6 linked regions of the Homo sapiens genome follow. The protein of the gene in region 2 purifies or fractionates together with the protein of the main gene of each other region. This does not show direct contact. Each region holds a gene or a part of one and is shown on either strand. Other genes may lie near its edges. The genes, in order: CCDC85C, PSG9, CELSR3, ZBTB44, ZMYM1 and SHCBP1.

The links.
Region 1: the proteins of PSG9 (region 2) and CCDC85C purify together in Homo sapiens (affinity purification with mass spectrometry; 3 studies listed by BioGRID and IntAct, with this or other methods). This does not show direct contact.
Region 3: the proteins of PSG9 (region 2) and CELSR3 purify together in Homo sapiens (affinity purification with mass spectrometry; 3 studies listed by BioGRID and IntAct, with this or other methods). This does not show direct contact.
Region 4: the proteins of PSG9 (region 2) and ZBTB44 purify together in Homo sapiens (affinity purification with mass spectrometry; 3 studies listed by BioGRID and IntAct, with this or other methods). This does not show direct contact.
Region 5: the proteins of PSG9 (region 2) and ZMYM1 purify together in Homo sapiens (affinity purification with mass spectrometry; 3 studies listed by BioGRID and IntAct, with this or other methods). This does not show direct contact.
Region 6: the proteins of PSG9 (region 2) and SHCBP1 purify together in Homo sapiens (affinity purification with mass spectrometry; 3 studies listed by BioGRID and IntAct, with this or other methods). This does not show direct contact.

What each region holds. Positions count from the first base shown.
Region 1 is NC_000014.9:99,597,280-99,602,040, forward strand, and holds part of CCDC85C (coiled-coil domain-containing protein 85C), read right to left. Parts: intron 1-4,761. UniProt on the Homo sapiens protein: May play a role in cell-cell adhesion and epithelium development through its interaction with proteins of the beta-catenin family. May play an important role in cortical development, especially in the maintenance of radial glia.
Region 2 is NC_000019.10:43,265,981-43,271,453, reverse strand, and holds the start of PSG9 (pregnancy-specific beta-1-glycoprotein 9 isoform 1 precursor), read left to right. Parts: upstream 1-1,923; 5' UTR 1,924-2,022; coding exon 2,023-2,086; intron 2,087-3,304; coding exon 3,305-3,670; intron 3,671-5,473. UniProt on the Homo sapiens protein: Binds to the small latent transforming growth factor-beta complex, consisting of the N-terminal TGFB1 latency-associated peptide (LAP) and the mature form of TGFB1, thereby leading to the activation of TGFB1.
Region 3 is NC_000003.12:48,659,642-48,665,044, forward strand, and holds the start of CELSR3 (cadherin EGF LAG seven-pass G-type receptor 3 precursor), read right to left. Parts: upstream 3,246-5,403; 5' UTR 2,994-3,245; coding exon 1-2,993. UniProt on the Homo sapiens protein: Receptor that may have an important role in cell/cell signaling during nervous system formation.
Region 4 is NC_000011.10:130,255,276-130,260,036, forward strand, and holds part of ZBTB44 (zinc finger and BTB domain-containing protein 44), read right to left. Parts: intron 1-4,761. UniProt on the Homo sapiens protein: May be involved in transcriptional regulation.
Region 5 is NC_000001.11:35,095,868-35,100,628, reverse strand, and holds part of ZMYM1 (zinc finger MYM-type protein 1), read right to left. Parts: coding exon 4,738-4,761; intron 3,313-4,737; coding exon 3,063-3,312; exon of another isoform or gene 1,182-3,062; intron 809-1,181; exon of another isoform or gene 787-808; intron 1-786.
Region 6 is NC_000016.10:46,610,922-46,615,682, reverse strand, and holds part of SHCBP1 (SHC SH2 domain-binding protein 1), read left to right. Parts: intron 1-4,761. UniProt on the Homo sapiens protein: May play a role in signaling pathways governing cellular proliferation, cell growth and differentiation. May be a component of a novel signaling pathway downstream of Shc. Acts as a positive regulator of FGF signaling in neural progenitor cells.

The sequences.
Region 1 (4,761 bases), on a different chromosome or scaffold from region 2:
CCTGAAGAGCAAATTACCACCTGTGAGGTCAAGTCCCGCTTCCCACCTGGCTCTGGGTTCAACCAGATTGGATTGAACACACACATTCAAAGCTGGGCATTTTCCCTTCCCAGTTGTAATGTGGGGCGTGTCTTAGAACCCACATCTCAACCAGATTCCCAGAGCTGTCTGGGGTGTCCACAAGCCCCATCCTCAGTGGATTCAGGAATGCCCCTTCTCAGTGTCCACGCAACCTCCCCTGACACAGCGCTCCCCAGCCCTGGAGGCAACACAGGCCACCTGGGCCACTCTTGCTTGTGGGCACTGAAGTCTGAAAAGCTGGGACTTTGGGGTCTGCCCTGTGGGGCTGCCCACAGCACTAACCCCCCTAAGAGTTATCTCCCCACACACATCCTGGGTCCACCTTGCAGGCCCCGGATTCTCAATGCCATGCTCCAGACCCCACTTCCAAACCTTAGCCATTCTTATTCCTGCCTGGAATGCTGGCTCCCTCCATTCAACTAGATGAGGACTCAGCTGCCTCCGACCCTACACTGGGTACCAGCGTGTGTCAGGGGATCTCCCACTCCCACCCAGGGAAGGCAAATCCGCAGAGGCCAGGAAATAATGAAAGGACATGGAACCCATCCTTTAAGGCCCAGTTCTAGGATCGAGACATTATTAGCCTCAGGATATAGATGAAGAAACTGAGGCTTAGAGGTTCAGTAAGCTGCCACGGCCATAAAGCAGGTGGCAAAGCCAAGATTCACCCAGGGCTCTCTGACCCTGGAGGCAGATCACTAACCAGAGGGCTACATGCCCCTCGGCATGCGGGGTGCCGAGCGCTGCAGCGGGAGATGGGGCCTTCGCACATCAGGGGCTGCCACCCGCCAGAGGCTACACGTATCACTCACTACACACCCTCCTCCCTCAACCCAAAGGTTAGTAACATTTTCCCACTTGGCAAAAGAGAAAACAGAGGCCCATGGAGGCTCAGGAACTTGCTTAACAGACTTCCAATTCTCTGCGCAAATGAAGGCAACAAGCATGGATTGGAAAATCCCCACCGGCGGAAAACAGATTAGGAGCAACCACTGATTTCCTTCTGTATCACGTGCTGGTCCTGGGAACTCAGAGGCCAGGCCTGAGCAAGAGGTCTGGTGGGGCGACTGCTGCGGTGGCAAGCCAGCCTCGTGCAGAGAAGTGAGGGAAGGAGAAACCAAGAGATGGGGAGCCACAGCCATCGTAGGGAAGGTGGCCCACCCTGCACCGCCTTCCCCCACTCCTCCATGCCAGGACACAGGGAGACAGGAATGAGGCCCCGGGCCTGGCATCCTGGGAGGAGGTGCCCTGTCTCTGTGGCAGAGGTCACCGCTCCCCTGGAACTCTCTGGGCAGCAGGCACAGGGCCATGGGCTCAGAATTCTGACACAGGAGACCCAAGACGCATCCCAGGCCCCCCAATCAGCCCCACAGGACCTAGAGCAAGTCACCGCACCACCACTCCAAGCCCTGATTTCCCCATCTAAGATATGGAGATGCTAAGGTCTCCCTCCTGGGACCATTTGGAAGCTCTGAACAGAATGGAATTGGGACTGGGATGCTGTTTGTGGCAAACTGTGAAGCACTGGGCACAGTTTACCCACCCCTGGGTCACCTGCCTGGGAGCCTCTCAAGGCCAGCCCTCCTTTCTGAGGCCCAGCATCCCAAGGCCATTGATGGATCCCTTGGGACAGGCTGGGGAAGGAGGGGGAAAGGCTTATCTAACCCACCCCATTGTCTTCACTGACCTTTGTTCCTGAGCTTGGCTGGGTTTAGGAAAAGCAGCCTTATTAGCCGAGCTGCTGCACAGAAAAGACCTATTCAGAGTTAGCGTGCTCTGTCTTTTTCTAAAGGCCCAGACCACCCCGTTCCATCCTCCCTCTTAAACCAACAAAAACACAAGCAGGAGAACAAACCTGTCTCATTTTGAGAAGCTCAAAATTTTAATCCGAACTTTAAAAAGTAAATGGGGCTCATGCACAGGCTTGCTAGAATCCTAGTTCCTCCAGGTTGGCTAAAGGGGAGTGGACCGTGGAGGAGCAGGTTATCAGGGGAGGGAAGGAAATGCCTGGCAATGGGCAGGAGGGGGGCATGGTGCCTGTCGTGGGGCACAGGAGACAGGCGGAGGGGCAGCTGGAAAAAGAACTGAAAATTCTTTTGTTTGAAAATCCTATCAGTTCATGAAGGAGAACCTGACTTTCTGGTGTTGGGGTTTACCTGTCTCAGTGTGCCACACTGGACTAGAGCAACGCACAGCCCAGTCCCAAGTCCAGTCAGCCCAGACCAGACCTCTACCAAAGGCAGCCAAGGCCAGGTGCAGTGGCTCACGTCTGTAATCCCAACACTTTGGGAGGCCAAGGCAGGAGGACTGCTTGAACCCAGGTGTTCGAGACCAGCCTGGGCAACATAGTGAGATCCAGTCTCTACAAAAAATTCAAAAATTATCTGGGCATGGTAGCACACATCCCAGGAGGCCGAGGCAAGAGGATTACTTGAGCCCAGGAGGTTGAGGTTGCCGCGAGCCATGATGGTGCCATTGCACTCTAGCCTGGGTGACCAGAGAGACCCTGTCTCTAAATAAATAATAAATAAATAAATAAGCAGCCAAGGAGAAAAGCCTATTTGCATGTACATACACAATACACAGGCCCACCAGGCCAGCCTCAGCCAGGGCTGCCTTGCATACAGATGGGCCACCTCCCACCTCAGCCACTAGAGTCTGCCCAGGGCACCCAGCAGGGCTGCAACTGCCACCAGCTCCCCAGAAAGGACAGCAGGGCCACTGTCCTCACTAGCTCATCAGCAAGTGCTGCCACACAAGAGGCTCAGATGCAAACATTCAGGTGAGCTGTCTAAGCAGCAAGCACTTTTGAAGAGGAAACTGAGGTCTGTTGGGAGAGCCCCAAGGACCCTAACAACAGGAGAAACCTACTGTGTGTAGATCCTGACCTCACTCAACCTTGTGTGAATAATGGGGCACTCTGGGTTCTGTCCATCTTACAGAAGAGGAGCACAGAGAGGCTTGGCCAGTTAATAACTTGCCCAGTATACATGGAGGAGCTGAGATTCAAACTCAAGTCACCCTGAGCCTCTGGGTAACGGGGTTATCAGCCATCTGCTCAATGGTCACTGATAAGGAAGTGACACTTCCCAGCATGGGAGAAAGAGGGCAAACCTGGGTCAGGAATCAAGAATAGGGAGTCACCAGTGTCCCCTGATTAACAGTAACAGCAAACATGACAACAGACCAAGGGCACAACAGATTCAGACCCAAGGCCTGAACACGAGATGATCATGGCAGCAAACCCACCCAGGACAGGTACTTCCAATGTCAGCCACCTTCCCAGACAAGGCTAGGAACCCCTCTAAGCCTCCACTTGCTTGTCTGTCAAATGGGGATAATACTGCTTCCCCAGGGTTCCTGTGAGAAGAAGCAAAGACCAAACACATAAGGCGCAAGCCTGGTGTCTGACCCCACTTTAGACACCACCCAGACAGAGACTCATTATCTCCCTCAGCTCAGGCCCAATCTTTGCTCAATTTAAAGTTACAAGTCCCAGAATAGAAAAGCCCAGTTTCACCAGGTGAGGTGGCTCATGGCTCTAATCACAGCTACTTGGGAGGCTGAGCTGGGAGGATCACTTAAGCCTGGGAGGTTGAGGCTGTAGTGAGCCATGAGTGTTCCATTGCACTCTAGCCTGGGTGACAGAGTGACACCCTGTCTCGAAAAAAGGGAAAAAAGAAAGAAAGAACAGCTCAGTTTCTAAGAGAAGGGCCTTTCCTGGTTTCCAAGCCTTCCATTTACATTAGTGGGACCACATCCCAAGGCCACACATGGCTTTAAGAGACAAAACTAAATAATAATAATTCCATCTGTAACCGAAATTTGTAATAATAATGCTGAATTTTCATTTCACCCCAAAGCAAGGTTTGCTGCCACAACATTTGCAGCAGTCCTGTGCTAAGTGGGCTTGGGGGAGGATGGGTTCTGTGGGAAACCCTATACTTCAACCTCCCACTGACCCCCAGTGGGGTGGAAAACTCAGTGTAGCCTAGTCCTCCACTCCTGTATTATTCACTGTCGCAGCTGACATGCTGAGCCAGACTGGGGCCGCATCTCCTTGCCCAAAACTCGACAGAGCCTTTCCTGCAAGTATGCTCTAAACACTCCAGCCCTCCAGTGTCCTGCAGAGAGGCACTCTTGCCAAGTGTCATTGATGACGCAGCTGAAAACCAGAAACATTTCACTTTCCAGCCACGAGACTGCAGCAATCTGCTCTTTGGACTGCACTTAGGGAAACCGAGGCCCAGATAACTGACCCCTCAAAAGCCCCCAGGACGGCAAAATCAAAGGGGCTGAGGTGCTCTGAACAGCCCCAGCAAATTAAACCACCTAACTTTGCGCTACTCCCACTGCCCTGAAGCAGCCTGTGGTGGGAGGTGGGGGTGGATACAGTGTTACAAAGAGAAACCTGAGTTGTAGCCATAGATTGCTAATCAGTAACAAAATATCCCTCTAAACCCAGTCCTGCCTTGAACCCACAGGCTCAGGATGGTAAATAAAGGAAAAACATGCTGCACTGCCCCTGCCCCACCTCCATGGGTATGTCTCCCACCCCAGCCCCCACCCCAACACGTCTGCAGAGGCCACTTGGCCACCAAACTAAGGAGAAAACGTCCCTCCCCAGCTCAGGCTGAGGGGTTCTGGGGAGGGCAGTTATTGCAGGCTTAGACACACTTT
Region 2 (5,473 bases):
ATCTGATTGTGAAAGAGGGATAACAGTGAACGTAGAGCCACAGAGACTGGGACTCACGGGGCTGGAAGGTGAAGGAGCTGTAACATAACATATGTGTGACCTCGTGTGAAGTGGAATAAAACATGCAGCCTGGCCTGGGATTGCTGCCGTTCACACTTCCCTCCCTGTCCACCAGAGGGCGACAGAGTCCCTCCCAGCCTGGAGCCTTCCCAGGGGATGCCAACCTCCCTCAGCGGAACCCACAGCCCAGCAGGGTCCACCCTCACCAGGGTCACTTCGGCCCAAGTCCTCAGCACCCTCCATGCTCCCCACACGGACTCTGTCAGTTCCTCCCTGACCTGGCGGCCGCCAACCTAACACCACTCCCTCTGCAGGGAGCTCCTGCCCCACACACCTGCTCCTTCCCTGGGCCCAGCTAAAGGCATCTCCCAGGGCAGCGCTGGTGCACGCGACGCCACACTGGGCGCTTTCCCCTCGTGAACTCTCTCCATCCTCATCAACTCTTTCTGTCACTGCTCCCTAAATGCCTGCCCCTGCTCCATCTGTCCTGTTCTCTGGGGCTTCCCAGGCCAAGCCTAGCGCCGACACAGAACAGCGGCTGCCTGAGGGCCCACAGCCTCCCCGGGAATCAGCCAGGCACCCTGTCACCTGCCTGCCCCCTGCACCCCAGGGGGCTCAGAGAGCGTGTGATGGTCATTCACAGGTACCATCCGGGATGTGGCCACCTACCCCCAGCTGTCCCTTGGGAAGACAGACCTCTCCTGTGTACTTGCGTGGAGAAGGGCGGTGTTATTGCTCTTTGCTCCCAGAACACAACTCACCCCCACCCGCCCTCTCAGGTGTGAGCAACGTCCCTCCAGAGAGCCTCTCTGGTCACTGCCTGTTCCTCCTCTACAGACAGCAGCTTGGCCAGGTCAAAACCCTCAGGACAGACCCCTGGGTGTGTCAGCACATGGAGGGCTGAGCCCATCATGGCCACGGAGTAAGTCGGGATGAATCTCTCCAGCTCTGAACCCCTGCTCTGTCCCAGGCTCCCCCTCCTGCGTCTCAATGAGCCATGTCCCGCGGGGTTCCTGGGTAACTCCCCACTTCCTCCTGCACCACCACGGGGAAGGTGTGGTGACCACAGGACAATCAGCTGGGCAGAGAAGAGAGGACATCAAAGATGGTCAGGGAGAACATGAGAAACCCTGAGCTCCAGCTCAGCCGCCAGACCCCAGGGAGCCATAGACTGACAGAGAACTGTCCCTTTGACTATGGGACTCACAGCCCCCACTGAGCAACCAGCACAGGCCTCTCCTCCTAAGAGGCATGAGAGATTCACCCTGCACACCTCCAGGAAGGACAGTTTCCTCTGGGACACCCAGGTCCTGAAAGTCCATCCTTGGAAGCTGCAGTCAAGCTTGACACGATTAGAGAAAGGAAGGGTCCCTCTCACCAGGCAACACACAGCTCACCCACAGCACAATGGGGTGTCACTGTGACAGGGACCTGGTGCATCTCCAGCCTCCTGCACTGAAGGGGAGAGCCAGATGGGGATGAAAGAGGGTAAAAGGCATGAATGTGCACCCCAACCCAGAGCCATGGGGACAGCAGGAGGCTGAGGCCCAGGACTGTGCTTGCCCAACCTGCAGGGTATGTGCCTGACTGTGTGGGTCTGTGTGTGTCTCTTCTGTGTGTGTGTGTGTGTGTGTGTGTGTGTGTGTGTGTCTGCACAAAGTGTGTGTTGAGGTTTGGTGAAAGAATCACTGCTGAAAAAGGCAGAGGCCTCCACAACTCCCAGGGACCTGAAACACAGACAAAAGGAAAAACAGAAGGAGGGACAAGGAGGCAGGACTGAGAGAGAAGGGGACAGAGAGGTGTCCTGGGACTGACCCCGCCCATGAGCTTGAGAAGTGCTCCTGCCCCGGGAAGAGGCTCAGCACAGAAGGAGGAAGGACAGCACAGCTGACAGCCGTGCTCAGACAGCTTCTGGATCCCAGGCTCATCTCCACAGAGGAGAACACACAGGCAGCAGAGACCATGGGGCCCCTCCCAGCCCCTTCCTGCACACAGCGCATCACCTGGAAGGGGCTCCTGCTCACAGGTGAGGAGAGAACTTCCTGGGAGAGGACAGGGGGAGGAAGCGGAGTGACTGGATGGGGTCTCCTGGAGAGGATGGGGTTGTAAAATAAAAGAAGCCAGCTCTTAGGGAGGCTGAGGTGGGTGGATCACGAGATCAGGAGTTCAAGATCAGTCCGGCCAATGCAGTGAAGCCCAGTCTCTCCTAAAAATATAAAAAATTAACCAGGTATGGTGGTGTACTCCTGTAATCCTAGCTACTCGGGAGGCTGAGGTGGGAGAATCATGTGAACCCGGGAGGCAGAAGTTGCAGCTAGCCGAGATACCGCCACTGCACGCCAGCCTGGGCGACAGTACGAGACTCCGTCTCAAAAAAAAAAGAAAAAAAGGAAAGAAGGCTCTGTTGCAGCCTGGATAGGGGAAAATACACCAGAGAGGGACAGGGGTCAAAAGAGGAAAGTCACATTGAACCGGAATTGGTAAGAGGTAGGAAAATCTTAAGTGTTCTGTTTTCCTGATTAATCATCCGGGGCCACCACATTTTGAAAAATGATAATAATAACTATATCAGATGACACTTCAAATAAAAATATAAGCAGGACATGAAACACTATCCTCAGCAAAAAACCTCAACAATTGGGGGAAAAAAAAACACCCAGGGCATGGAGGGCCCTGAGAACTCTCACATCTACAGGAGTCTGCAGCCTGTCCCAGGCACTGGGGTGCAACCAGGATCACAAAAGTCCCTGTCCTCACGGAGCTCACGCTGTCATGGGGAGGAAGACAGACATGCGAAGAGATGTAGAATGTGAGATCAGGTGTTGACAAGAACCCTGGAGGGAGCAGAGCAGGGAAAGGTCAGAAAGGGAAGACCCAGGGTCTCTGAAGGAGGTGTCAGGAAAGAAGTCTAAGGATGCCCTGATGTGAGCAGGACCTGAGGGCAGTGTGGAGGGGGCCGTGTGGACCCCTGGGGAAGAGGATTCCAAACAGAAAAATGCCAAGGTCAGAAGTGTTGAAGGAATGGGGGTCATGCTGCTGACCTTGACCTAGTAGGACAGTAGGACACACACACATACACATACACAAACACACATGCCCGTTTTTTGTGTGTGTTTGTTTGTATGTGTGCGTGTGTGTATCTTCAAGGCTGAGGATGGAAGAGACCTTCTCAGGACCCAGGGCCCCATCTTTTCACCACAATACATAGGTCTCAATATTAACTGATGCTGTCTCCCCCTCCTAGCATCACTTTTAAACTTCTGGAACCCGCCCACCACTGCCGAAGTCACGATTGAAGCCCAGCCACCCAAAGTTTCTGAGGGGAAGGATGTTCTTCTACTTGTCCACAATTTGCCCCAGAATCTTCCTGGCTACTTCTGGTACAAAGGGGAAATGACGGACCTCTACCATTACATTATATCGTATATAGTTGATGGTAAAATAATTATATATGGGCCTGCATACAGTGGAAGAGAAACAGTATATTCCAACGCATCCCTGCTGATCCAGAATGTCACCCGGAAGGATGCAGGAACCTACACCTTACACATCATAAAGCGAGGTGATGAGACTAGAGAAGAAATTCGACATTTCACCTTCACCTTATACTGTGAGTGATTCCACATGATCCCTGGGTGTTGGGGGGAAGGGGTCATTTCTACTTCACACACACAGGATTGTCAGGCCTGGACTCTGCCTGTGTCACTCTCTGCATTATGTCCCATGCTGGGGTTTGGGCATTTAGTGCAGGACACACACAGAGGAGACAAATTTCAACAGATCAGAATTCCTTTCCCGCATCCAGACCCTGCAGACACTCGCTGCAGAGGAAGGACAGTCTGATGGGGGGACTCAGCAGGAGGAGATCAGTCTCAGCCAAGCACATCATGCCCTCTTCATAAATTTGACCCTGAGAAAGACCCTGGAGAACTGAGTAGGGCTTGGCTTGAGGGGACCCCTGAGATACTCTCAGAGAAGCTCAGCCCTAGAAGCCTCAACCCCAGACCCCTGTCCCTAAATCCTTGCTCCAGTTAAGCTGAGGAGCCTGTGCCAGTGCTGGGTTGTGGCTTCTTGGGCAGGCCTTACTGGGACCAAGAATTTACCAGCTGTCTGAGGACTGTGTCTCCTGGAGCTGTTCACCAGCCAGGGCTCAGCCCTCAGAGTCTCATCTGGGCAAGGACAGAGCTTTTTCAGCTGACACTCAGAGTGGAGAGGACAGAAAGACAAGCTTTGTAGGACATCAGCCAACTGCCTTGGGAGGCTTAGGACAGTCCATAGAAAGTCTAATGTCCCCAGAAGCAGAAACAGAAGGGAGAAGATGTACCTGGTAGCAGCTTGTCCACAGGGATCTGACATAAGGTGCTTTCTCATGGAAGCAAATTAATAATAAATGCTGCTTGTGTGAAACCTCCACTGTGCCAAGCATTAGGTCAGGTGACTGTGAATCATTTAACATTTATTCACAGATAGCATGAAAAGCCACAGTCCATTTGCCATTTAGTTTATTTGATTGAGAGAAAACTGAGGCACAGGAAGGTGCAGTCACTGAACCAGAGTCACACAAACACAAAGGGGAGATCAGGGTCACATGAGGTCTGTCTGCAGCCACAGGCCTATCCTCTCCTCCACCAGAAGTGAGGGCTTACTGGGTTCCAAGGACCCCATAGTCATTTATTGGCTCAAATCCTCTCTTCTTAGGCATCCAAACCTCAGAGGAGTGAGAGCAAATGGTCAGCTGATTAGTCTGTATTCCAGAACTAAATCACCTGCCTCAACCATCAGAGTCAGTGCAAAAAATATGTCCAGGCCTCCCCCTCAGATCTTAACCCCCATCACTGAACGTGAAATCCTGTGTTTCCCAAAGTGTCCATGTCACTGTCATGAGAGGATCAAGGAGAGGACCTTGTTTTCTTTCCCCACTCACACCCTACACCAGCACAGGCCCAGCGAGAGACACACACTCAGGAGCTCTCACATAATGAATGAAGAACTTGAATGAAGAAATGAATGATCCAAAACCTCTTTAGAGACTGAATTTGCATGCAGAATCCTAGGAGGTTCTAGCCACACCTGTCCCTTGTCCTTCAGAGGCTGACACCCACGTTTCATCCCCCCACTACCTCTTGCCCCTAAAGCCACCCCACCTCATGTAACTCTGAAGCTCTTTGGCCACCGGAGGGTTCTCAGGGCTCCTTGGTCCTGGACTGTGGAACTGGGGGCACCTGGGCCCTGGGGTCTCTGAAGTCAGTGTCTCCCTCACTGCTCACTGCCATGGTGTCTCTGCCTCTCTCTGCTTCTCTGTGTCCCTCATCTTCCTCCCACTTCATTCTGACTGGCAAGCCCTGTCCTGCACAGCTTCTTCCCCCACCCCTAGGCCTTCCCCAGACATTCCCTCTAACTAGGCTGGCTGTTC
Region 3 (5,403 bases), on a different chromosome or scaffold from region 2:
TACTGGACCCGGCCATTGGCATGAGCATCCCGGTCAGTGGCTGAGATCTGCAGGACACTGGTGAAAGGTGGGGCATCCTCAGAGACCAGCCCTGTATAGTGGGAGGCCACAAATTGTGGAGCATTGTCATTCACGTCATTGACCATCACCTCCACATAAGTAGTGTCTGCCTTCTGTGGGATGCCATTGTCCCGAGCTGTGATAGCCAGGGTGTAGGTCACCTGGTCCTCATAGTCTAATGGGGCCTGTAATGTAATGGCTCCTGAGTCTGCATCAATGCGGAACTGGGGCAGGTTGTCCTCCAGGAGATAGGTGATACGAGCATTCTCACCCACGTCATCATCAGAGGCACTGATGACCACTATGGTGCTACCCATTGGCCGATCTTCATTCACACTCACTGAGTAGTGGGCACTTTGAAAGACCGGCCGATGAGTGTTGGCATCTGTGATGTTGATGTGCACATAGCAGTGATCATGAAGGGCACGGTCAGATGCAGTTAGTACCAGCTTGAAGTAGCGTTCCTGCTTGTAGTCCAGTGGCAGAGCCAGAGTCACCAGACCCACACCCCCCTGGGTGCTGATGGCAAAGCGATTCCGGGTGTTGCCGCCTGTGATCTGGTAGCTGATGGCACTGTTGGCATCACGGTCTACTGCGGTCACGCTGACCACACTGGTGCCCACAGCTGCATCCTCATTCAGTCGTAGGTGGTACTCCTTCATTGTGAACTCAGGCCGATTGTCATTAACGTCCAGCACAGTCACGGTGACACTGGCTGAGGCAGAGAGTGGGGGTGAGCCATGGTCTCGAGCCTCCACACCAAAGAAGTAATGCTCCACAGACTCACGGTCCAGGGGACCACTCACAGAGACCCAGCCAGTGGCGCTGTTTATCACAAAAGGAGTATCAGGTGCCACACCAGTTAGGGAGTACTCCAATCTGGCATTCTCCCCATGGTCTGCATCGACTGCCTGAATGTGGATGACTGAGTGACCCAAGGGAGCATTTTCCAAGACAGAAACTTGGAAGGGCGTGCTGACAAAAATAGGAATGTGGTCATTGATGTCCACCACCTGGATGCTGGCCAGGCCCGTGTTGTTGGACAGCGGTGGCCGGCCAGCATCCTGCGCCCTGATGCGCAAGGCATACTCTCTCTCTGCCTCGAAGTCCAGAGGTGCCACCACCTGGATCTCGCCAGTGAGGCTGTCGATGGCAAAGTGTCCACGGCTATTGCCACTGATGATGTTGTAGTGCACCAATCCGTTGGCGTCCTTGTCCCGGTCAGTGGCCGTGACGCGCAGCACGACTGTGTGGGGGCGCACATCCTCGCGCACCTGCGCCACGTAGCGCTTCTCGCTGAACTGAGGAGCATTGTCGTTCTCGTCTAGCACAGTTATGTGTACGCGCACAGTGGCCGAGCGCGGCCCGGGTTCCTGGCCCTGGTCGCTGGCTTCCACCACCAGCTCATAGCTTTCCATGTGCTCGCGGTCCACTCGGCCGCTGGTGCTGATGAGGCCGGAGCGTGGATCAATCTCGAAGGCGGCGGCAGCTGCAGCGCGCGCAGCTGGCGGCCCCACGAAGCGGTAGCGCAGGTTGGCGTTGGGGGGCGCGTCGCCGTCAGTGGCACGCAGCTGCAGGATAGGGTAGCCCTCCTCCACATTCTCGCGAAGGGTCTCCCGGTACTGCGCTTGCTCAAAAACCGGCGAGTGGTCGTTGCGGTCGGCTACTGTCACGGCCACCATCGTGGTGGCCGAGAGGCGCGGCGACCCGTGGTCCTGCGCGGTCACACGCAGGTAGTGACGCTCCATGCTCTCGCGGTCCAGAGCTGCCGCCGTACGGATAAGGCCGCTCTGCGGGTCGATGCTGAACAGCTCCAGCGAGCGGCTGTTCATGAGTGCCGCCAGCGAGTAGACTAGGCGCCCGGCCTCGCCGGCGTCCGGGTCCTGAGCAACCACGCGTAGCACCGCGGTGCCTGCTGCCTCATTCTCCGGCACCAGCGTCTGGTAGTTGTACTGCGGAAACTGCGGGTGGCGGTTTGCGGCGCGACGAAAGCGTGCCCGGTTCGCCGAGGTTACTTTCCTGGCTTCAGGACGGGCCGGGAGTCCCGGGGGACGCGGCCCGGGGCGCTGCGGGAGGAAGCGGCAGCGGAAGAGACCCCGGGAGCGCATGCGCTTGGGCGCCGGCTCGGGAGCTGTCCGAGACTCGCGGGGTGCTGAACCTGATGCAGGAGCTGTCCTCGCCGTGCGTGGTGCTGAATCCAGCTCGGGGCCAGATCCCGAGGCCCCTGGAAGACAGTTCCGCCGGGGGGCTGTCCTTTCTGCTCCGGATGTCGTGGCTCTCTCGCCCTGACCCTTGCTCCCTGTTGCCCATAATTCCCCACAGCAGCGCGCGGTGCCCACTCTTTTGCGGGAGCCTGTCCCAGCGTTCCGCTGGGAGGACACCGGCTTGGGACCGTGGTGCCGAATCAAAAAGTCTGAAGGGAGGGGCGAGCTGTTCCCCGAGCCCGGGACCCCTGAGGACAGAGCCCCTGGTGACAGACTACCTCTTTGCAAAGGTCCTGTCCGCCCGCAAGAGGAGACCTCTGGGCGCCAGTATAACACAGACCCTGGTCCCTGTCCTGTCTCTCGTTCGCGGCTGCCCAATGGCTGGACGCCGTGTTCAATCCCCAGCTCCTCATTCGGCTGCTCAGGGGGCCCTCGACTATTCCGGGCGCTTTGCCTTCTCCCTCGGAGCCCCACGAAGATAGGCTCCCTGACCCCCAGGCCAGGCCCCCCATCCTCCCGGACCCCGGAAGACTCCGGACAAAGAGCTAAGGCTCCGCCACCGATATGCGCCCTTGGCCCCGTAGTGGCAGCTAAGCCTGGGTCCCAGCCCTGGTGCCCACCGCCCCCCAGCTCCTCCTGGCTGAGGGGGAACAAAGAGAGGAGAAGGAGCAGGAGTATGGGGGTCGACCGTCCCCCGAGGCCCCGCCACGGCGGCCGCCTCGCCATCATCCCCCGCCTCCCTGCACGGCCTCCACCGCCCCCCGCCCCGGTCCGGGCCTTGGGCTGGCCCCGCCGCTCGGGCCCCCTCCCGGGCCCCTGCCGCCGCCCCGGGCCCCCGCCCCTCCGCCTGTCTCTCCGCACCCCCGCCGCCCTCTGGGCACCATCTACTCCGCGGCCGGAGCCCCTCCGGCGTGCGGCCCTGGCTTTTTCCGCCCCCACCACAGCATCCCCGACGCTGCTGCCGCCTCCCGCCGCTCCAACATGGCTCCCGGCCGCCCCGATGGTTCGCTCCACCTCTGCCCCGGCGCCCGAAACACGGTGGTACAACCCATCGCGCATGGCAGCTCTGAGGACCGAAGATGTTGCCGCCATCTTTATTGAGGACGTGAGCGTTGCTCCTGGTGCTGAACAGAGCGCGAAGGTTCGCCGTCGTTGGGTCCGCCCTCCCCACTTTCGGTCGCCGCCTTCACCCACCTCCCTCCTTCTAGGGCGCTGTCCCAGCTCCGTCTCCCAGCCTTTTTCTGTCCTTCCAGATCTCTTGTTCCCCCTTCCTGACCACTAGTTCTGAACCGTGTCCCGGATTTTGGTCTGAAATTTTGGTGCCCATGAGCGTTCTCATAGCTCTGGGAGGGGGTACTGTGTGAAATCCTGGGGTAGAGGGGACGATGGCTGGAGAGGGGTCTGGGGTGCCAGCACCCCGAACAATAGCTTTAACTATCCCATCAGCTAGTTTTATGAAACATGTCGCGACCACCTGCTTGTTTGGATCGCCCCTGCGGAGCAGGGACCAGAGATGACCCTCCCGAGGCGGGAGCAGAGGCCAAATTCTTCCCTGCCTTGCTGGTCCCCAGCAGTCTCCCGGGCTCGGGGCCCCTTCACTGGAGGCTGCACCCCCTCCCAGGCTGCGAGTCCCGAGTGCTCTGGGATGCCACGTGGAGCCCGGCGTTGCCCCATGGCTGCGGGCCCCGCTTCTTCGGGTCCCCGCCCCTCGTCCGTCACGACCGCATGCCTTAACCCCTTGAAGGGACTGACACAGAAACTCAGTCCTCCCCCCACCCTCGGTGCATTCCAGCTCTCCCTGCGTAACTCCTGGCACGCGCCGGTCTCGCCAGGCCAATGGGTGGACCTGGCGCAACAGACGTCACGAGAGGAGCGGAGGCGAGGGGTGAACGCGGAGCACTCCAATCGGTCAGTCATTGTTTCTATTGGCACAATGGGAGGCCCCGCCCCTCACGGCGGACTCATCGCATGGGGGAGGGGGCTCCGCGGGTTGCCGGCTAACCGTGAGAGAGTCCGGGAGGTACACTATACGGACCGGCCTCCAAAGGCGGAATCGATAACGAGCTGCAGCGCCGGGTGCAGAGGACGCGGGCATCCCGAAGCCCAGGAAGAGGTCAGGGCCGGGACCCCAGAACGCTCCACAGGGTGCGGCTCCCGCGATGGGGTGGATCCTGGTTCTAACAGGCGAGGAACTCCTGGCCAAGGCCTCTGGCCCGCCCCGAACGGTCCCTATGACATCACCATCAACCAATCAGTCGGCGCATCCTTTCGCCCCTTGACTGCTCCGCTTCCGGGAGGCGGGGCTTCTGCGGGTTCCACCTCCCGAGCGCCCCTTGTGGCTACCAAGGTCAGGCAACAGGTGTCCAGTTGTTCCCTCTCCTGTCTACGAATCTGAGGACCTCCCCAGGATCAGAGCTCTGGGCCTGATACACGGCCGGGGTTCCTACGGGTTTGTGAGTGGGGGTGGAAGATCTGCAGAGGCACTTAGGGCTGAACTCCTTTGAATGGGAGCCAATCGGTGCAGGGGCTGGAGGAGCGAGTCCCCCAAAGTAGTTTTATTTATCTATTTAGAGACAAGGTCTCACTCTTTCGGAGTGCAGTGGTGATCACAGCTCACCGTAGCCTCGAACTCCCCAGGCGATTCTCTCACCTCAGCCTCCCGAGTAGCTGGGACTACGGGTACATGTCATCACACTTGGCTAATTTTTGCATTTTTTATAGAGACAGGGTCTCACCATGTAGGCCAGATTAGTCTTGAACTCCTGGGCTCAAGCAATCCGCCCATCTTGGCCTCCCAAAGTGCTGGGATTATAGGTGTGAGCCACCGCGCCCGGCAACCCAGAAGTGGTTTTGACAGCACCAGCGCTTTCTGTGTCCACAATCTAGTGAGTAGAGGGCACAAAACCTGACACCACGGAGGCAGACAGGCAGGGGCTCTGCCGGGGAAGGGTGTTGGAGTCCCAAAGGAGGCGTCTGAGTCACCTTCGCAACCTGGGACGCCTTCTTGCATAAGATGCCTGAGCAGTGCCTTGAATGACCAAGGGGAGATCCGCATCTGCAAAGGAAGGGCAGGGAGGGATAGGGATTGGGGGTGGGCATCCTAGGTCTTGGAGACTGTGTGGGCAAATGTGCAGAGACA
Region 4 (4,761 bases), on a different chromosome or scaffold from region 2:
GAAACTAAACAACCTGCTCCTGCATGACCACTGGGTAAATAACGAAATTAAGGCAGAAATAACGAAGTTCTCTGAAACCAATGAGAACAAAGAGACAAGGTACCAGAATCTCCGGGACATGCTAAAGCACAGTTGAGAGGGAAATTTATAGCACTAAATGCTCACATCAGAAAGTGGGAAAGATGTAAAATCTATACCTTAACATCACAATTAAAAGAACTAGAGAAGCAAGAGCAAACAAATTCAAAAGCTAGCAGAAGACAAGAAATAACTAAGAACAGAGCAGAACCGAAAGAGACACACGAAAAGCCCTTCAAAAAACTAATGAATCCAGGAGGTGGTGTTTTGAAAAGATTAACAAAATAGACAGACTGCTAACCAGATTAATAAAGAAGAGAGAGAATAATCAAATAGACACAATAAAAAATGATAAAAGGGATGTCATTATTGATCCCACAGAAATACAAACTACCATCAGGGAATACTATAAACACCTCTTCGCAAATAAACTAGAAAATCTAGACGAAAATTCCTGGACATATACACCCTCCCAAGACTAAACTAGGAAGAAGCTGAATCCCTGAATAGACCAATAACAAATTCTAAAGTTGAGGCAAAACCTCAAAAAAAAAAAAAAAAAAAAAAACACCCCTTCATGCTATAAACTCTCCTGAAATAGCCTACCAACCAAAAAAAGCCCAGCACCAGACAGATTCACCAGACAGATTCACAGCTGAATTCTACCAAAGGTACGAAGAGAAGCTGGTACCATTCCTAACAACAGAAAAAGAGGGACTCCTCCCTAACTCATTTTATGAGGTCAGCAACATCCTGATTCCAAAACCTGGCAGAGGCACAACACAAAAAAAGAAAATACCAGGCCAATATACCTGATGAACATTGATGTGAAAGTCCTCAATAAAATACTGACAAACTGAATCCAGCAGAATATCAAAAAGCTTATCCACCAGGATCGAGTTGGCTTCATCCCTGGAACGCAAGGCTGGTTCAACACACGCAGATCAATAAACGTAATCCATCACGTAAAACAGAACCAATGACAAAAACCACGATTATCTCAATAGACGCAGAAAAGGCCTTCAATAAAATTCAACACCCTGGCTGGGCGTGGTGGCTCACGCCTGTAATCCCAGCATTTTGGGACGCCGAGGCAGGCGGATCACGAGGTCAAGAGATCGAGACCATCCTGGCCAACATGGTGAAATCCCATCTCTACTAAAAATACAAAAATTAGCTGGGTGTGGTGGCATGCGTCTGTAGTCCCAGCTACTCAGGAGGCTGAGGCAGAAGAATTGCTTGAATGAGCTGAGATCACACCACTGCACTCCAGCCTGGTGACAGAGTGAGACTCCGTCTCAAAAATAAATAAATAAATAAAAATTAAAAATAAAAATTCAACACCCCTTCATGCTAAAAACTCTGAATAAACTAGGTATTGATGGAACATATCTCAAAATATTAAGAGCTATTTATGACAAATCCATAGACAGTATCATACCGAATGAGTAAAAGCAGAAAGCATTCCCTTTGAAAACCGGCACAAGACAAGGATGCTCTCTCTCACCACCCCTATTCAACACAGTACTGGAAGTTCTGGCCAGAGCAATCAGGCAAGAGAAAGAAAGAGTATTCAAATAGGAAGAGAGGAAGTCAAGGGTATTCAAATAAGAAGAGAGAAGGTCAAATTGTCTCTGTTTGCAGATGACATAATTGTATATTTAGAAAACCCCACTGTCTCTGCCCCAAAACTCAAGCTGATAAACAACTTCAGCAAAGTCTCGGGATACAAAATCAATGTGCAAAAATCACAAGCGTTCCTATACACCAGTAATAGACAAGCAGAGAGCCAAATCATGAGTGAACTTCCATTCATAATTGCTACAAAGAAAATAAAATACCCAAAAACACAACTTGCATGTTCAGCACATGCATCCCAGATCTTAAAAAAAAAAAAAAAAAAAAAGAAAAAGTACATCTTAATCCTTGCTACCAATGTATGTGACCTTATTTGGAAATAGGGTCTTAGCAGATGTAATCAAGTTAAGATGAGGTCATGCTGGATTAGGGTGGGACCTGAATCCAATGACTGGTGTCCTTTTAGGGAGAGAGAGATTTGAAGCCAGTGGCAAAACAGAGAGACAGGGAAGGTCATGTGAAGACGAACGCATATACTAAAGCACAATATCATATACTGGAGCTACAAGCCAAAGAACACCAAGGATTGTGGGCAGCTGCCACAGGCTGGAAGAGACAAGGAAGGATTCTTCCCTACAATCTTCAAAGAGAGAAAGATCCTTCAAAGGGAACTAACACCTGTCGTTCAGATTTCTGGCCTCTGACTATGAGAGAATAAATTTTTTTTAAACCATTCAGTTTGCGGTACTTTGTTGCAGCAGCCCAGGGAAACTCACACAGAGGGTAAAAGCACAAGAAACTAACAAAGTTAATATGGTCTTCCCGGTTCTCCAATATTTTGGACAAATCTTTATTATTCACTAGTGGCTTTTCTTCTATCCCTTCCCAAACCTGAATATAGGTATTCCCCAAGGTATCCCCTTGGTTTTGGCTCTTCTGTTTTTCCTATTGAGATTGAATTTGCCACTACTAGTAGAAAAGTCCCAAGTTGGGAATCTCACTTATCTTTTCTACTGCTTTTGAAATGACACTGCTTGATCATCATCCAAGCACAATTTACACAGAAGTGACCTTGATAATTTACTCTCAAAACTGGATTCCCACCACCTTCCACTGATTTTCATACGGCACTAACTACATTTAATAGATGCTAAAATGCTATTGATTCATATGATTGCCATTATTCTCTATAGCACTAAGGAAGAAAAAAGCAACTGTAGAAGACTGCCAACTGTAAGACATATCTGGATTCAGAAATAACAAAATATGAAAAATTGTGACTTAGAATCAATGGAATATAATAAAGTGTTACCATTATTTCCTAGTCATCAGAGTACTTTAACCTCTCCTGTTCTTTCAATATACATATTCAGTATCATCAGGTACTAAGTCTTTCTTTACAAAGTCTTGTAATATCTATTTTCTTTCACATGGTTTTAAGTCTTCATTCACACCAAGATAAGTGCACTGCAATTGGTCTCTGAGACTGTCTCTGTAAAACCAAACTCACTGCATGTCAATAACAGTTTTCCTAAAATATCTGCATGTTTTTGTTTTTATCCCTTTAATGTAGACTCCTTACTACCTACCACTAAGATAAAATCCAAGCTTACTTGGCCTACTTGTGGCAGACACTGCTAGTTGCATACTCAATATCCATTTTGCTCTAATTTTGTTCAAGGCATTTAGGTACCCAACTAATATACATTATCTTCCCAGATTCCCTTGCAGCTAGGAAAGACTATGTGACACAGACTAGCAGAAGTTTTTTAGGGATTTCTGAGAACATAGGTGCTTTCTTGATACAAAGCATTGCCCCTTTCTAGAATACAAAGCTGAAGATGAAATGAGCATCTTATGGATGAAACCAACAAAGTAAAGATGGCAGTTTATAAATATACAAGTTGCCTAGGCCACTGATTATATTGCAGATTCACTGTACCAGCCCTGGACTTTTATTCCTGAACACTTTGTGATAAAAAATCACAAGCATTCCTGTGCACCAGTAACAGAGAGCCAAATCACGAGTGAACTCCCATTCACAATTACTACAAAGAGAATAAAATACCTAGGAATATAACTTACAAGGGATGTGAAAGACCTCTTCAAGAACTACAAACCACTGCTCAAGAAAATAAGAGAGGACACAAATAAATGGGAAGACATTCCATGCTCATGGATAGGAAGAATCAATATCGTGAAAATGGCCATATTGCCCAAAGTAATTTATAGATTCAGTGCTATCCCCATCAAGTTACCATTGACTTTCTTCACGGAATTGGAAAAAACTCCTTTAAATTTCATATGGAAATTTAATGAGATACCATCTCACACCAGTTAGAATGGTGATCATTAAAAAGTCTGGAAACAACAGATGCTGTTGAGGATGTGGAGAAATAGGAAATGCTTTTACACTGTTGGTGGGACTGTAAACTAGTTCAACCATTGTGGAAGACAGTGTGGCGATTCCTCATGAATCTAGAAACAGAAATACCATTCGACCCAGCCATCCCATTACTGGGTATACACCCAAAGGATTATAAATCTTTCTACTATAAAGACACATGCGCACATATGTTTACTGCGGCACTATTCACAATAGCAAAGACTTGGAACCAACCCAAATCCCTGTCAATAATAGATTGGATAAAGAAAATGTGGCACATGTACACCATGAAATACTATGCAGCCATAAAAAAGAATGAGTTCATGTCCTTTGCAGGGACATGGATGAAGCTGGAAACCATCATTCTCCGCAAACTATCACAAGAACAGAAAACCAAACACCACATGTTCTTACTAATAAGTGGGAGTTAAACAATGAGAACCCATGTACACAGGGAGGGGGACATCACACAGTGGGGCCTGTTGGGGGATGGGGGGCTAGGGGAGAGATAGCATTAGGATAAATACGTAACGCAGATGAAGGGTTGATGGGTGCAGCAAACCACCATGGCATGTGTATACCTATGTAACAAAACTGAACGTTCTGCACATGTACCCCAGAATTTGAATTAAAAAAAAGAAAAAAATACTGCCAGAGAAAACAACTATAAATCATTTTATTTTCAATCTAAAAAGATAAATAAATAAATAATAAAGAAA
Region 5 (4,761 bases), on a different chromosome or scaffold from region 2:
TTTTTTTGAGACAGGGTCTCACTCCGTTGCCCAGGCTGGAGTGCAGTCGTACAATCTCAGCTCACTGCAACCTCCGTCTCCTGGGTTCAAGCAATTCTCCTGCCTCAGTCACTGGTGTAGCTGGGTTTACAGGCACACACCACCACGCCTGGCTAATTTTTATATTTTTAGTAGAGACAGGGATTTGTGGTGTTGGCTAGACTGGTCTCGAACTCCTGACCTCCAGTGATTCTCCTGCCTTGGCCTCCCAAAGTGCTGGGATTACAGGTGTGAACCACCTCGCTTGGCCCACAAATCGCATCTTTCTAATAAGATTTAAAATGTCATCTTCAAAGGGATCTTCCATTTGGTCCATGAAATAGAATAAAAAGTGCATTGACTCAAAACAGATATTAAATCATTCCTATAAAAGAAATCTTAAAAAGTAACTAAAAATCAGGCAGGGCGTGGTGGCTCATACCTATAATCCCAGCACTTTGGGAGGCCGAGGAAAGCAGATCACCTGAGGTCCGGAGTTCGAGACCAGCCTGGCCAACATGGCGAAACTGCATCTCTACTGAAAATAAAAAAACTAGCTGGGCACAGTGGCACACGCCTGTAATCCCAGCTACTTGGGAGGCTGAGGCAGGAGAATTGCTTGAACCCAGGAGGTGGAGGTTGCAGTAAGCCAAGATTGCACCATTGCACTCTGGCCTGGGTGACAGATTGAGACGAGACTCCGTCTCAGACAAAACAAAACAAAACAAACAAACAAACAAAACTGAAAATCAGCACGGTGGCTCACACCTGTAATCCCGGCACTTTGGGAGACCAAGGCAGGAGGATCACTTGAACTCAGGAGTTTAAGATCAGCCTGGGAAACATAGTGACTCTGTCTCTGCAAAAATAAATAAATAAGTAACTGAAAATTATTTTCAGTTCAGGATAGTTTCACTGGAAGATAAAAAAACCCCAGAAGAATAGCTAAAATTTATGTAAAAGGCTAATTAATGTGGAATTTTTAAGTTTTGAAAAAAGCAGCCTACTCTGAATCATGGATGGCCTTTTCCAGCCTAAAATTTACTACCATCTTTCTACCCACTACAATATAATATTTTTTATAAAAAAATTTTATTCTAGAGGAAGTAAAACTTATCTCAGATTTTTACTCATATTGGATTTCCATGCCTAGGAGAACTTACACACTAAATCTTTCCTGCTTCAGCCTTTTTCAATCTGTCTGGGACATCTGCTGAAGATGTGTAGTGAGTCTCTAAGGTCCCTTCCAGTTTTATGACTCTGCAGGGAGAGAAAGCAGGCTGAAGAGAGTACTATATGGCCCATAGCAAAAAAGTAAAAAGACAAAAGACTAGTATAGTATTGAAGGGTTGAAAAGCAAAAGAGAATGGTAAGTAACGTGCCATGGAATAAGACCTGAAGCAACAGATAATAACTGAAGCAGCAGCCAGAGGAGCTGAAGCAAACCCATCAAAAGGGTTTGTGAGTTTGTTAAGAGAATAATAATAGTTAACATTTATTGAGTTCTTACTACATGCTGGTATTGTTCTGACCACTTAAATATACTATTTAATGCTCATAATTCTTTTGTACATTTATCAAAAACAGATACGAATACTAAGTAACAAAGAAGTTCTCAATACTGCTCCAACTTTAGCATGTATAGGAATCACATGGCGATAAATGCAGTTCTGAATCAGCAGGTCTGGGTAAGACCTGAGAAAGTGCATTTCTTTTTTTTTCTTTTTGAGACAGTCAGTGCAGTGGCCTGATCTCAGCTTACTGCAACTTTAGCCTCCCGGGTTCAAGCAATTGTCCTGCTTCAGCCTCCCAAGTAGCTGGGATTACAGGTGCATGCCACAGTGCTCAGCTAATTTTTTTGTATTTTAGTAGAGACAGGGTTTCACTGTGTTGCCAGGCTGGTCTCAAACTCCTGAGCTCAGGCATTCTGCCCACCTCGGCCTCCCTAAGTGCTAGGATAACAGGCGTGAGCCACTGCTCCCAGCCTGAGAAAGTGCATTTCTAACAAACTCTTGGGTGATGCTGATCTAGCAACTCAGGGATGAAACTTTGAGTAGTAAAATATAACTAAACAGAAGAAGCAAAATTCAAATTATGGCAACCTGAGTCCAAAACAAGTATTATTTGAAAGAAATTTGTTATATTTAGAAGCACTGTGGTTGCCTATGGATTTTCTTGTTCTGAACAAGAACATTTAAAAATTAGCATATCCTAAGTGCTAACAACCATAATTATACAGCCTTAGGACTCTCAAAGCCAAAATGACACTGATTCTTCACACATTCTCACATAAATTTTTAAAAGATTACATAGAGACATGTAGGTTTATCTATGGCCATCAATTTTTCAAAAGAATCACTTCATTTACCATTATAAAAGAAATATAATATTATTCCACATCTTGGAAAATCCAAACTAACTGTCATAGGATTAATTTTTTAGTAGGTTGCTCCCTATACAGTTAAATAGAACAGAATGGATAAACAATAATCCCATTTACAGAGAATTTCAAATGAAAAGAGTAAAGGTGAAGAGAAACAGTACTTTTCACATTAATTTCTGCAAAAAAAAATATTTCTACAGAATCCATCAGAGGAACTAAAAGTAGAAAAAACTTCTTTTTACTAAACCAAGACGACACGTCTTCAAAAGAAATGAAAATGGCCGGGCGCAGTGACTCACACCTGTAATCCCAGCACTTTGGGAGGCCAAGGCAAGCGGATCACCTGAGGTCAGGAGTTCAAGACCAGCGTGGCCAACATGGCGAACGAAACCCCATCTCTACTAAAAAATACAAAATTAGCCGGGCGTGGTGGTGCATGGCTGTAATCCCAGCTACTTGGGAGGCTGAGGCAGGAGAATCGCTTGAACCCAGGAGGTGGAAGTTGCAGTGAGCCGAGATCGTGCCACTGCACTCCAGCCTGGGCAACAAGAGTCAAACTCAGTCTCAAAAAATAAAAAAAGAAAATGTAGAAATTACAACTAAGACTATGATCAAGAACAAGGTAGGGAAATAAAAGGGGGCATAATTTAGAATTATATACTTTGAGCAGTTTGAACAAGTTCTCTTAGAAGGAACTGGTGAACTGGCAGATGAAATGTATTCAGTGATGCATGGTATGGAGCAGAAAAGTTGAGCAGATCCTTTCCTCTGATAAGCAGTTTGCCCCTTCTGGAGAATTTTTTTACAACCAGCACAGGAAACCTGAATAGCTGTGGTTGAAACTGAAGGAAGCATTTTATTCACGCCAGATGATGCCAGAGAAAGCTGAATGCCTGCAGTCAACTGTGAAGCTATAAAAACACAAGAGGGAGAAAAAAAAATTGTTATTTACACAAAATTAAGTAGGCATTCCTTTATTTTCTTTCTTTCTTTTTTTAGAGACAGGGTCTTGTTCTGTTGCCCTCTTTTGCACTCTAGGCAGTGTAGTGATACGATCATGGCTCACTGCAGCCTTGACACCCTGTACTCAAGTGACCCTCTCACCACCTGGTGCGGTGGCTCACGCCTGTAATCCCAGCACTTTGGGAGGCCAAGGCAGGTGGATCACCTGAGGTCAGAGTTCAAGACCAGCTTGGCCAACATGGTGAAACCCCATCTCAATTAAAAATACAAAATTAGCCAGGTGTGGTGGCTAACGCCTGTAATCCCAGCATTTTGGGAGGCAAGGTGGGTGGATCACGAGTTTAAGAGATTGAGACCATCCCGGGCAATATGGTGAAACCCCGTCTCTACTATAAAAATTAGCTGGGCATGGTGACACATGCCTGTAGTCCCAGCTACTCGGGAGGCTGAGGCAGGAGAATCGCTTGAACCTGAGAGGTGGAGGCTGCAGTGAGGCGAGATCATGCACTGCCCTCCAGCCTGGCAACAGAGCGAGAGCGAGACTCCGTCTCAAAACAAACAAAATTATCTGGGTGTGGTGGCACGGGCCTGTGATCCTAGTTACTTGGGAGGCTGAGGCAGGAGCACTGCTTGAACCTGGGTGGCAGAGGTTGCAGTGAGCCAAGATCGTGCCATTGCACTCCAGCCTGGGCAACAAGAGCGGAAACTCCATCTCAGAAAAAAAAAAAAAACCTCCCGCCTCAGCCTCCCAAGTAGCTGGGACTATAGGCATGCACCACCACACCTGGTTTTTAAATTTTCTGTAGAGACAGGATCTCGCTATGTTGCCCAGGCTGGTCTCAAACTCCTGCCCTCAAGCTGATCCTTCCACCTTGGCCTCCCAAAATGTTGGGATTACAGGCATGAGGCACCATGCCCAGCCTCTTTGATTTTCTTCTCTTTTTTTTTTTTTTTAGACAGAGTCTCGCTCTGTTGCCCAGGCTGGAGTGCAGTGGTGCAATCTTGGCTCACCACAACCTCTGCCTCCCAGGTTCAAGCAAATCTCCTGCCTCAGCCTCCTGAGTAGCTGGGATTACAGGCATGCGCCACCACGCCTGGCTAATTTTGTATTTGTAGTAGAGACAGGGTTTCACTATGTTGGCCAAACTGGTCTCGAATTCCTGACCTCATGATCCGCCTGCCTCGGCCTCCCAAAGTGCTGGGATTACAGGTGTGAGCCACTGTGCACGGCCTCTCTTTCATTTTCTTACAGGTTACTTCTCCTGGACTTAAAACCCAACACAAACAAAGCAATATTCAAAGGCATTAAAAAAGAATGAATCAGCTGTCGTATTGGTCTGAATAAACATAACTAACTTAAATAATTCTATTACCACTCTCTGAAAACACAGCATTTA
Region 6 (4,761 bases), on a different chromosome or scaffold from region 2:
CTGCAACCTCCGCCTCCTGGGTTCAAGCAATTCTCCTGCCTCAGCCTCTCGAGTAGCTGGGATTACAGGTGTGCACCACCATGTCCTGCTAATTTTTGTATTTTTAGTAGAGATGAGGTTTCACTATGTTGGCCAGGTCAGTCTCGAACTCTTGACCTCAGGTGATCCACCTGCCTTGGCCTCCCAAAGTGCTGGGATTACAGGTGTGACCCACCGTGCACCTGGTCTAAAAATGTTTTAAATCATTTTATGATAATTTCAAACTTATAGAAAAGCTGACAAAACTAGTATAGTTGACTCTTGAATGATGTGGGGGTTAGGGGTGCCTATCTCCCCCCACCCCTACATAGTCAAAAATCTGAGTATAACATTTGACTCCCCCAAAACTTAACTACTAATAACTTACTGTTGACCAGAAAAGAAGCCTTACCATTAACATAAATAGTTGATTAGGACATATTTTCTATGTTATGTGTATTATCTTATAATAAAGTGCTAGAAAAAAGGAAATGTTAAGAAATTCATAAGGAAGAGAAAATGTATTTACTACTCATTAAGTGGAAGTGGATCATCATAAAGGTCTTTATCCTCATCATCTTCACCAGAGGAGGAAGAGGAAGAAGAGGGATTGGTCTTGCTGCCTCAGGGGCGGCAGAGGCAAAACAGGTGGAGGAGAGGTGGAAAGGGAGGCAGGAGATGCTGGCACACTCAGTGTAAATTATCAGTGGACCCCACAAAATTCAGACCTGTGTTCTTCAAGGGTCAAGTGTATAAAGAATTCCTGTTTATCTTTTACTTGGTTTTCACAAATGTTAACAAAAGTAGGGGATTCTTAATTGGGTTTGTATATATTTATAAACTGACTTAAAAGTTGTGGATGTTAAGGCTTATGGTCGGTATATTTCAATACAAGAGTACAGAAAGTAGAAGAAGAGAAAGACAGTGAAGAAGGTTATATACTATGGTGTGTGTACTGCTAAAAGACGAATACACATTTTTTTCAAGCATATGTCTGGTCAAAGCAAGTGTTTTCTTAGGCTGCTTCTAGGATCCTTAGGGGATGTATTCCTGCCTGTGAGTCTTTTTTGCCATAGTTATTTCCACTGCACAAGTGGACCCCTTGTCCCTTCCTTGGGAAAGAAAGCCCATACCTGGATCAGTGGGTATGATTTCAACAATTTTTCAGATCAATCTTTTATTGGATAGTTCCTGATATAGATAGTTATTTTGTATCTTCGCCAAAGAAGGCTTACTTGTAGCTATTTAAAAATAGACCCATATTCCTTCAGGAACTAGAAGACTGAGCAATATATAATGACCATAATGTAAATAACATTGCTTGGTGTTTTGTAGTATAAAAAGTACTTTCTATTTTCTATACCATTAGTGAGTTAACGTGGTTTTGCTGAGCTTAACTCGAATGCTCTGCAAAGAAGCAGAGTGTTTCAGGCCCTGCTGCCAACATCTTACGGACAGTTTCTAATTGTATGCAAGAACATTTAACCCTAGATGTTCAGTATTGGGCCAAGCAGAATGAATCTAAAGAACCGGTTTCTGTCCAGAACCAAAATAACTCCCTTCTATTTTTCTCATTAAAAAAAATCTGTCAATTGAAGCATTTGAAGATAAAGTGATAACTGATAAGTTTAGGAAATTAGGAATCAGGGAGCTAATCTCTATGGGCATAGAAGTTCGTGGAAAAATAAGTATCTGGAATGTTATTTGGTAGTATTATTTGAGGAGGAGCCTGGTTAAATTTACACTTCATTTGGAGGGCTGAGATTTGGATCAGTGCCCAGTGAAGGTCAAATTATGAGGGATTTCATTTGTTCGTTGATTCAATGAATATTTGAGTGCCAGGTCCTTAGTCAAGGATGGGGTATGTCTGGTGCATGAGACACACCATCATCAGGGAGCTGTCAGTCTAAAGGTGGGAGATGAGCCTTGATGAAATAATCACGCACAGATGTCTGCATGATTGGAAATAGCAGTGAGTGCTGTGATGAATTACAGAGTGTCCTAAAATTAGGTCAAGTTGCTGTTCTAGGGTTATTTACTGGAATAATGACATTTGAACTTGGGTTAGCTGTGTGAAAGGGGAGGCAGGGGTGGGGAAGGGAAAAGATTTGGGAGCTCAGTGTGTTTAAGGAGCTGAAAGGCCAGCATGGCTGGAACACAGACAGTGCTGAGAGAGACCTAGGAAATGAGATTAGAGAGGCTGGCAGGGGCCAGACAGTGCGGGGATTTGTTAGCTGGTTAGTCATTTTTGTCTTTAAGAGCAGTGGGAAGCCACTGAAGGATTTTTATTCTTGGGTGAATATGACTAGTTTTGTGTTTTGTGTTTTTGTTTTTTTGGAAACACGGTATTATTCTGTTGCCTAGGCTGGAGTACAGTGGTGCAATCATGTGATTCAATGCAGGCTCGAACTGTGGGGCTCAAGGCATCCTCTTGCCTCAGCCTCTGGATCAGCTGGGATTATAGGCATGTGCCACCACTAGCCAGCTAGTTTTTTAACAACATTTTTCTGTAGAGATGGGGGTCTCGTTGTGTTGCCCAAGCTGGTCTCGAACTCCTGGGCTCAAGCAGTCCTCCCACCTCAGTCCCCTAAAGTGCTGCTTTGTGTTTTCAGGGGTTCATTGTGGCTTCTGTGTAGAAAACAAATGGTGGGAGATGGAATTGGTAGACCAGTTAAGACGCAAGAGAGAGGACTAGAGTGGGGATATAGAGAGGACGGATGGAGGCTTACTGAGAAAGTACAATGGCTGGACTTGGTGGTCGAGTGGATATCAGAGATGAGAAGATGTAAGTGAGGTGAGAGAAGTCAAGGCTGACTTCCACATTTCTGGCTTGAAAGAATCAACACTGCGGGAGGTACAGAAGGGAATGATGTGTAAATGCTTGGCATGGTACTGGTGAGGATGATATTGGAGCCGAGTCATGGAATAGAACTATAAGCTTACCAGGTGGAAAAGGTGGAAGGCACTTCTGGCAGCTTGACTAACAAGTTACATGGAGGTTTGAAAGAGCTTGTGAAATTGAGAGTTTAGGTACAACGGCTCTGAGGCAGGAGAGGCGCAATAGGGCCAGATTATGAATCTATTTATAGTACCACGTTCAGGACTTCTTTTTGAGGGCTAAAAGGGAGCCAGCAGAGGTTTTTTCAATCGAGTAGAGGCATGCTTAAGTTCATTACAACAACAACAACAACAACAACAAAAGACTCCACTAGAGGGTGAAGGGACTAACAGCCCAATCTACAATAATTAGGAGATGGCTGGTTTCATTTTCAGTGCTTCCTTTTCACAGCAGAACTTCTTGAAAGAGTTATATATAATCACAGTCTATACTTCCTGGTGTCTCAGTAACTCTTCTACCCTGACCTCATCTCTGAAATTATGCTCAAAGACTTCCATGTTCTTGTATTCAGTCAACGTTTCACTGATCTCATCCTGCCTCTGATCTCATCTTGCTTAACGTCTTGACATTCTAGGTATTTGATCATTCCCATCTTCTTCACACCCTCTCCTCTCAGCTTCTGGGACACCACTGTTCAGCTGGTGTCTTACTGGCTTGCTTTCTCAGTCATCTTGGCCAGCTTTTCCTCTCATGCTCAAACTTTAGAATGTCAGAGTTACCCAGGGATCAGTCCTAGGCCATCTACTGTTTTTTCCCTAATCAACCTTGGAACCACTTTGGAATCACCTGAGGAATTTCTTTATAAAAGTATTCCAACCAATACATGAAGAAAGTGATAGAATATCAGTATTTTGTAACCACTAATGAAATAAAGGTTCTAGACAGTGAACATCGATGACTGCTGCAACCATTAGGGAAAGAGAACTTTATAGAGGGTGGATCAGGTTGACAACCTGTATCTGTTGATCAATCTGAACCTCACAAAAAGACATGGCCAGGCATTGTAATAAAGTCCTCAGTTACTGTTGTTGGTAGGTTCTTAGAAACTGTGATGTTAATGAAACCAATTTTACCATAGGCTGACTGATATAAACAAAAGTTAAAGTTTCTACAGCATATTTCTGGTCATGAAAACATCATCAAACTTCTAAATAAAGACCCCAAACAATTCTAATCTTAAACATTGAAATAAATGTGAACTATATATACATTAAGAAATATTAATGCAAACAAGATAATTATTGACCCAATTTCCAATTTTTGGTGAAACAGTGAGTGACAGTGGTCATTGTGGTGACGAGTAAATCAAGGAATAAATGTTTGCAAAGCGGAAATTATAAGGAGCACCTCCTGCCATCACCCACTTCAAAACAATGACAAACATAGTGGGCTCACTGAGCGATTTCATGCCACAGCATTCATTGTTGTGCATTTGTATGATTATTGTATACTTTATGAATTTTTGTTTGACAGTAATTTGTATTCATTCACTTTCCAACCTGCTTATTCCAGTTCAGGGTTGCAGGTGGCCAAAGCCTATTCCCGTAGTTCAGGGTGCAAGGCAGGAACCAGCTGTGGACAGGAGCCCATTTCATCACAGAGTGCACTCACACACCCACACTCAGACTGGGACAAGGTAGACACAGAATTCACCTCATGTGCGCATCTTTGGGATGTGGGAGGAAATCAGAGTACCTGGAGAAAACCCATGCGGACATGGGAAAAATGTACATACTCCACACAGACAGTGGCTTTGGCCAGGAATGAGGCTCTGCTCTTCCTGCTTCTTGACTGAAGTACATTACACCTCCCTTGAAGTATTCTTGCAAAAAATCCTTCCTGAA